3 separate regions of the Homo sapiens genome follow, and all the other regions are linked to region 1. Evidence: fine-mapped expression QTL. A gene starts in region 1. Each other region holds a variant in brackets. All regions are shown on one strand. Distances are between the middles of the regions.

Region 1 (2,761 bases):
TCGAGCGCTGCAGGTGGTGGTTGGCAGGGGGATTTAACACTGTGGAGCCCTTACTCCGTCCCAGGCGCTGAGCCCAGCGAGCCACGCGCGGTGCCCAGCTCGGTGAGGTCGGTTAGTTGGGTCTTCAGGGAGGCTAAATACCCTGTATTTGCTATTCCCTTCGCCTGGAACGCTCTGTGCGAGACTGGGTGTGGCAGCTCCTTTCCCAGGCTCAGGAATCTGGGTAAAAGCCACCCTCGCCTAGAGGCCCTCAGGGTGAGCGCCCCATCACGCGCTAAACCACTTTCGAAAGTGGACTTGGCCCTCCTCTCAGTACTAACAGTCTGTCAGCCTTTTATTTTTTGCATAGATATGTATTTTCTCTTCTTTATTGTCTGTCTTTCCACAAAAAATGCAAGCCCCGTGAGTACTGGAGCCTGGTGCGCCTTTCTCACAGTTGCAAGCTCGCAACTGCTCCTGGCATATACTAGGTGCTCACTAAATGCTCATGCCCTTCCCACCCGCCACCTGCGGCACTCGACACATTTGCAGTCTGCAAACTGACCCCAAACCATCAGCTGCTTGCATTCGTCCTAGGATCAAAGAAGGCCATTGGGCTAGTGGGAAGTCAAGTCGGGTGGACTTTTCCGTCTTTCAGGGAGATTTAATAGTAACGACGGTGCTCTCCCCACCTCCTACCCCCTTGCACATAAACTGCACAGAACAAAATCACCCCGGCACGAATCTGCACGACTGCCTCTGGAGGTAGGGTCACGGTCTCCGAGCCCCGGGTCTCACACTGATGCTGTCCTTTGTCATCTCGTGCCTAGAGTGCTGCCTCCCTATGTATTTCCTCTGTTCTCGACTCCTCTGCCACAGTCTGACTTTCTCGGGAGGTCGAGTTCTCCTAGCCTGTGCGACCGCAAGGGTCCCCTGGAGCCTTCTCCGTAAACCTGCCCCTCCCGCGCTGCCCTCACTTTTTCCTCCTTCCCTGGCCCGGAAAAGCCACTAGAGGAACATTTACCGAACGCCTACCGCGCGCAGGCACCGAGCTGGGCCACCGGGAGCCCCACCCAGTGCCTCGCCGCAGGACTCGCCTCCCTCCGCCCTCCCAACCCATCCGGAATCCGGGGTCCCTAGTTCCCCCGCCGCGTCATGGAATCCGCTGGCTTCTTCCGAGGACATCGCCCCACCTCCTTCCCGAAAGGCGACTTCTGATTGGTGAGATTGTGCATCACTCTGCCGCCCTCCCGCCCCCTCGGGGCCCCGCCCCTGGGCCTCTCAGGCCCCTCCCCTGCGCTCCCGCCCTTGCGCGGCTCCTCGGGCTAATCGCCGGGCGGCGCGCGCCGAGAAGTTCTGGGCAAAGTACTCAGAACTGGCCGCGTGCTGGTGGCGCCCGCCAGCCGGCCCGGGAGAGGGGACTTGAGCGCTTCGCGGCCGGTGCGCAGCGCGGCTCCGGCCCCGCAGTCTGTCTGCAAGTGGCCATCCCCGCCCCCGACTCCTGCGGCCGGTGCGGGAGCTGTCAGCTGCACGTTGCGGGGGTACCGGAGAAGCCGGGGTTGCCTTCTCCCGGTTCTGTGCGCTAACCCCGGAGCCCGGCCCCGGGGAACTAGGGAGCGTCTCCGGCTGCACAGCGCTCAGGTGAGTGGCGGGGCGCCCGCCTAAATGGGGCCTGGGTGTCGGGGGGCCTGGCGGCGGCGCGGGCTCGGAAGGGCTGCTGTTTGCGGGGCGCCGCGGTTCTCTGCCGGACCGGGGTCTGTCCGAGTCGCCCGGGGAGGCTCCGGCCCTGGGGCAGACCCAAGCCTGGGAGCTTGGGTGCCGGCTGCAGCTCCCGGGGAAGGAGGACCCGGGTCTCACCCACCCCAGGACACCTTCCCTCGAGGGACGGCTCAGAGGATTGACCGCCAGGAGGAGCCGAGCGCAGGGGCCGCGGCGCAGGTGCGGGAGGACGCGGCGCGCGGAGCTGTCCTGGGCAGCGGGGAGGCGCTACGCCGGGGCTAGAGGCTCAGGAAGCCTGGTAAATTGGGGCGAGCGCGAAGCTTTACCACATCCGCGGGATGGGGCGCGCCGGAGAGACTGAGACAACGCTCGCGGGGCAGGCGCTCCGCTCGCCCGCCTTCCCAACCCCGGCTTGCTCAGCTCCCCGGTGCTGGGCTGGAGGCCCAGGGCACATTCCTTTCTTGTCTGAATTTACATATTCATCAGCTTTCTGGCCCCTTCTGGAATTTTTTTTTTTTGTTAGTTTCCAATTACTACTGTTCAGATCACCTTCAGGCTCACCCTAACTCTCGTCTCAGTGTCTCTCACATTGGTCCTTTCCTGGAGGCCCTGCAGCGTCTTAGTTCAGGGTCTTAGGGACTTATGCACTCTGTCTGAACGTTGTCTACAGTTGGGTTTTCCTACCTCTGTCTCTGTTTATTCCGTGGTCAGGTAAATTCTTTAAGTACTGTCATCATAAGCCAGAAACTCCCAGGCAGCCTCTTAGCGCTGCCCAGCTTCCCGGGGAGCGTTTGTGGCCTCTGGAGTCGCTGATGGGCACTGTCGCAGGTCGTCCAGATACTTCTTAAGCAGGGGCGCGCCGCCCTTCCTTCGGCAACGCAACTTGCTTGCTGCCTTCTGCACACTTGTGCTTGTCCTTCTCCGCCTCACAAGCCACCAGTCTCCTCAGTCGGGACTCTTGGAGCTGAGGGGACTGTGAAGTTGTCGGTTTCCATGTGTCTGCGTACTGCGCAGAGGTGCTTGAGACCCCCTAGGTGTTGCTCTGACCCTCAGAGTTTGAGTA
Region 2 (2,761 bases), 69 kb after region 1:
AGTGGAAGTTACATTGCCATTTCTAATGCAGCCTCAGAAGTCACGAAGCATCATTTCTGCCATAATTAGAAGCCACTCAAATTTGAAGGATGGGAATATAGAAGCCATCTATTGATGAAGAAGTGTCACGGTCACTTTGTTAGAGGAGCATGTGGGATGGGATGTACATTGGTATGGTCGTCTTTGAAAAATACATCTTCCACACCCAGTAATGATGAATCAGAACTGGCATCAGCTTGCTCTAAGCCATAAATAAGCCTTGACGTCTGCCTTGGGTCTGGAGACTGGGTGCTTCTCATTTTCAGGAGCTATGATTGTCATTGTTCTGTGCTGGGGCTGTTCTGTCTTTGGGTGTGAGGATGGGAGAGTTGCCTTTTGCATAGTACTCAGAGTTCTTTGATGAAAAACGGTAAGCACAGAATGGTTTATTAGAATGCCCTTAATGTGCTAAACTCCCTAAATCAATGGATGTCTGCAGTGAATCTGCAACATAGGGGAATATGCAAGGAAGATCAAGGCCCTGGTTGCTGAATTTGATTTTTAAAATTAATTTGATGGAATCCAGCTTAGAGTTTTAACACATTACTTACATCCCACATTTTGACTTACATTTTCTGATTTGTAATTCCTATGAACTATTATTTTTTGGTAACATTCTTACTAGATGTAAACTCCTAAAGAATTAGGATCTATCTTTCCACAAATTTTTAAAGTTTGATAAATGGATACTTGAGAATATTTTCTTACTTCGGAGATAAAATTTAGTAAAAACCTTCTAGTAGCTAGTGTGAAGGGGAGGGAACACAGGTTATCAATTTGATAAACAAATAACCTACTACCTACCGTGTCAATTAAGAAAAAACAAAAACAAGGATGAGACAGTCTTCAAATTGCTTTTGATCTATACACTCTACTGGAGAGAATAAAATAACCATGTCATTGTTAGCATTGGGAACAGAGGTGCTTTTAGGTTTTTCTTGCCTTTTAGCTCTAGTCTACCAGTAACCACCCCACCTTTTTAAAACCTGTTTACTCTGCCTTTTCCTTTTATGTCTCTCTTTTTTCCAGTTTGCACTAGTTTAAAAGTGTCTCAGGTTAAGTTTTTTGCAGTAATCTTTCTTTCCCCTAGAAGTGAGTAAAACTTCCTGTATCCCTTTTTCTCCCCACCTATGTTCCCTAAATTAGTGATTCTCTTACAAGGAATTATTATCGCCCCTGCAGTTTTGGAAGGATACCTCCAAAATATATCTTGGGGACTTCGATTTATAGAATTTGGTTTAAGCTTAGATTCTGAGTCCCAGGGTTATTTTTAGTTAAGTGGACAAACAAACTTGAAGTGTGTACATCTGATACATGACCCACTAGGGTATTTTGTTTCTTGTTATTTGAGAGTGTTCAGTTAGCACTTATAGAGCATTACCCATTGTTAGCTGGCTGTTTACATTTCTGAAAAGATGATAAGTTGATTTTTGTAGGAAATAGGGAAGTTTTAAAACTTCATGCTCACATTTCATAGTAACTCAATTGATAGTCTTTTTAGATAAGTAATGAAATGCTGCCTGTGGTTGCCAATTGTTAAAACTCTACCAAGCTTCCGCAAGCAGTTGTCGGTTAAGGGAGCGTAATAAC[A/G]CCCACTGATAAAATTCAAACCACCAGATGTTATTTTAAGTTCTTGGGTGGTGCTATCTTTTCTTACCCTTTAAACTGCTAAGTCACATCCTGCTTTGCATTTCAATTTGGTATAAATTGGATGCAGCAGACATAGGTCTGGCATAAGATGCTCAAACAAAATTAAATACCAAAATTAAAGAAGGCAGTTCTGTGGAGTAAATCTGTCATTTCTGGATGCAAGATTATGTTAGAGCAGTGGCTCAACCCTTGCTGTGTATCCAAATCACCTGGGAGTGTCTCAGGATGCCCTTGCCCTGGCCTCATCCCCAGTGTCTGGACCAGTTAGTATGAAATGGCACCAGGCTTTGGGATTTTGTAGAAGCTTCCCAGGGTGATCCTGTCACGCAGCCGGGGTTGAGAAATGTTGCAGGAGGTGCCCCTCCCGACCCAGCTCACAGCTTTGTCCTCCATGCTTCTCTCTACCTAGTCAAGCCCTATCCACATCTTCACGGCTCCCTGCAGGCCACCTCTTCCTAAGCTTTTTCTCACAACTCCAGCCCCACTGAGCTCTTCCCTTGTGACTGCCCATAGCACCTACCAGATGGCCCACCCTGGGGTGTGTTCTGGCTTGTTTCATTTGTGACATCTTATCTCCTTGATCACAGTGGTTTCCTCCTTGGATTAAGTTTCTGTCACTTAGTTTCCATCACTGAAGGGTTAGCACAGCAGTGGACACATAGTAGTTACTTTATAGGATATATACTGAATTGAGTTTTCATCAGTGTGCCTGTCTTCTTTTTGCCACCTGTCTTTCCACTGTAGCTTCCTTTATTAGCCCACATTTATTCATAAGTATTTCTTCCTTGTAAGGTGTTGAAGGACAAGTAAGAGTAGCTAAGCTGCAGAAGGAGGAGGAAAACTCAGCCCATTTCTGATTTCTCCATTCAGGAATGGAGGAGTTGTCATAGGACCTATGGACTCATCTCTCTCCATTCAGAACATTGATTCATCCTGATCTGTAGTGACTCTTGGGACCACGTGGGTGATAAATGCAACATGAAAGGGGCTGGCTTGCTGGAGAAGGTGAAAATGATTTGAAGATTGGATGTCTACCATCTATCCTATTTTGAGCATTTGGGATTATTTCAGG
Region 3 (2,761 bases), 51 kb before region 1:
AACCTGGTGATCAATGGGATGAGAGAGTCACCCTTTGAGGAAAGAGAAGCGATGTAAACATGAAGGTGGGTGAACAGGTAGATATAAGATGTGTGGCCTTAAGCAGTTGACTTAGCCTCCATGTGTCTAGTTTCCTTCCTTGGAAAATGAGAGAATACCCACATCACAGGGCCGTTGTAAGGACTACATTAATTGAGTTCATCAACATAAAGCACTTGGAGCACTGCCTGACACATAGTAAGCACTAGATAAGTATTTGATGTTAATAGCTGTAGATATAGGAATACATAGGTACAGAGAATAGCAAGAGATATATGAAGGGAGGGAGGGATGGTGAAGAGATGGACAAATGCCTCCTAGATGTGGGAGATGAAGGTAGGAGCATGGTTCCCAGAATGTCTTTGCAAAAGCAGTCACACATTTGAGTAAATCTAGCCACACTCTCCCCCTTCTCCTCTGTCCAGTGTCCAGGATAACAGGTGCTCTTTGTTTTGTGGGACAGACCACAATGACTAATCAACACCAGACCACTGCCCCACATGAGGCAGACAGCAGGCAAAGGGCTGATGTGACAGAACTGTGCTATGGCACCCCCTGCAGATGGCCCTGTAAGGCCCATTGGGCAGAACAGTCAGAAAGGGCTCCAGCCACCTTGGTTCAGGGCACTCACAGGGACTGCCAAACAGCTTCATACTTCTCAACTCTCTCACCTTTCTTGTTCCGTAAACATTTTGTCATATGCCCACTTTCTCCATTCTGTTGTAACATTTATCCACACATGATAAATGTAGGAGTCCATGAATATTACCTAAATCAACACTGACCTGGGAATCAGACCTGTGCTCCAGTGTGGACTACGAAACTAATTGTTAAGCCTTGAGCTGGTTATTTCATCTCTCTGCCTTCAGTATTTGCATTTGTAACCACACAGGGCAATGCCTTTTTGCCTGCAGATTACGCCTGAAGCTCCGTGCAGCCCTCAAGTGCATGGGTCTTTGACTTAGCACCTGCAACCTGGGCAGTGTCTTCTCTCAAGTTTCAGTGTGAGTCATTCCTCGGCTTCCTTGAGTTTAGGCGCTCACTCCTCTATGCTCCCAGTGCACC[G/A]GCTATGTACCTGAAAGTGCATTACCCTCATAGATTTGTTCACATGTCTATCTCCCCAAAAGGCTGTAATACCTTTAATGCAGGAATTACATTTGGTAAGTTTCAGAGAACAGAATCCACTCTAACCGGTTTAAGCAGGAATGGATATTAAATGGCTTGTAGCGTCATTGGGAGGGGAAAAGAAAGACTCAAGATGAAGCTTTCAGGAACCACTCACGGAGCTACACTGCTGAACTGGGCCACTAAAGGAGAGCTGCTAAATCTTTTGGTATCAGGAAGTCTCCAGCTTGACAATTGCCCCACCATTAACACAATGAGGAATTAAATTCTTTCTACACATATCTCACAGTCAAATTCTCAAAAGGAGCTAGAGTCTGTTTAGCTCCCTCGTCTCTGTATGGATGGTATTTCTTGCACCAGGCCACTCCCTAAATTTCGGACCAATTTAGAGATTGTTTGCTCTTGGGTTAGATGCTAAGTGTGTCCAAAGAGCTTCAGCCAAAGAAAGTCAATTTCATCTGGTACAAACATGGTGAAGGGTCATTGGGGATGAGAGTGTGGCCAACACATTTCCTCCTTCCTACTGTTAAGGAGATTAATTTTCCCATTATCAATACAGTTCTTCAGTGGCGATTGGTGACAAGTCGATCATCTGGTTGGATATCAATTAAATTAAAATCTGCTCTTAACCCTAATAGTCTCTTCACCTAATGCCCGACACAGAACCACAACCGCTTTAACGAAACAGGCCAAGATCGTAGAATCTTAGGACTAGGAAGAAATTCAGGGGTCATAAAATCCAGTGCTTACCGAATACCACTTTGTAACACATAGAGAAAAATAGGACAATGTAATGAGTTTTATTTTATCTAAATGAATTCAACGTAAAGACCTGGCTTTATTCTGGGATTTTTTTTTTTGTTGTTGTTCTCCTATTTCTTCAGCGATATATAGCTTTTGTTTGTTTAGGCTTTTCTTGGCAAAATAAAAATTGGGTTTTCCTTTGGGAATCCTCTCTTCAAGTTTCCTGTTGCTTTTTGATCTTATTCTGTTCATGCCCTCAAAGGCCTATACCACAGCTTTACTGTGACCTCGTGTCACTGTTTCTTTGTCAATTTCATCCTTTATTCCCCATCACCTATCAGGACATGGACTCCAGCCTCTCAGCACACCGAATTTGTGCCTGAGTGTGTGGTAAGACCTCAAGATAAAGGTTTGTCTTCTGTGATTCTTTGTCACTGCTTCGTCCCATGTCACATCTCACAGGGAATTATTTTGACACTCTCCCCTTATAAATGAGGTCCAACTCATTTGTGAGAACTTGAGCTGTAATTTGCAGTTTGTCGTGGCATGTTTTATCTACTTTGACTCGGGTTGTTTCTCTCCGTCTTATCATTTAACAAGTACATAGTCTATTTTTACTTCTCCTAACTCTAGCTTTTATTCCACCTATCCTTCGCCTGATATATTTTCCAGGACTTCTTTTTCTGGAATGATTTCTCGTTATCTCACTTATCTTAAATCCAAACTTAGTCTTTAGGTACAAGAATCTGTGACTTTTTCTATCCATTCACAAACATTTACTTATTGATGATTTCTTTTTAGGTTGCTTCCTTGGGCCGGTGAGCTCTTGGATCCATTTCTTGCCCTCCCCCAG

Evidence for each region.
Region 2: its variant is fine-mapped to the expression of OSBPL3 in monocytes after LPS (Quach 2016, PIP 0.95). The same link has a PIP of 0.9 or more in monocytes and monocytes after Pam3CSK4.
Region 3: its variant is fine-mapped to the expression of OSBPL3 in whole blood (INTERVAL, PIP above 0.99).

What each region holds. Positions count from the first base shown.
Region 1 is chr7:24,978,745-24,981,505 of GRCh38, reverse strand. OSBPL3 (oxysterol binding protein like 3) reads left to right here and starts at 1,328. Exons shown (of 23, transcript NM_015550.4): 1 at 1,328-1,620. RefSeq lists an enhancer at 1-28 and silencers at 1,169-1,678, 1,729-1,938.
Region 2 is chr7:24,910,147-24,912,907 of GRCh38, reverse strand. All of the region lies in intron 1 of OSBPL3 (oxysterol binding protein like 3), which reads left to right. Among named protein-coding and RNA genes, the nearest start is that of OSBPL3, 69 kb to the left of the region's middle. RefSeq lists an enhancer at 2,079-2,228. The variant A/G (reference allele first, on the strand shown) is at 1,630.
Region 3 is chr7:25,029,441-25,032,201 of GRCh38, reverse strand. No RefSeq gene overlaps it. Among named protein-coding and RNA genes, the nearest start is that of OSBPL3, 51 kb to the right of the region's middle. The variant G/A (reference allele first, on the strand shown) is at 1,105.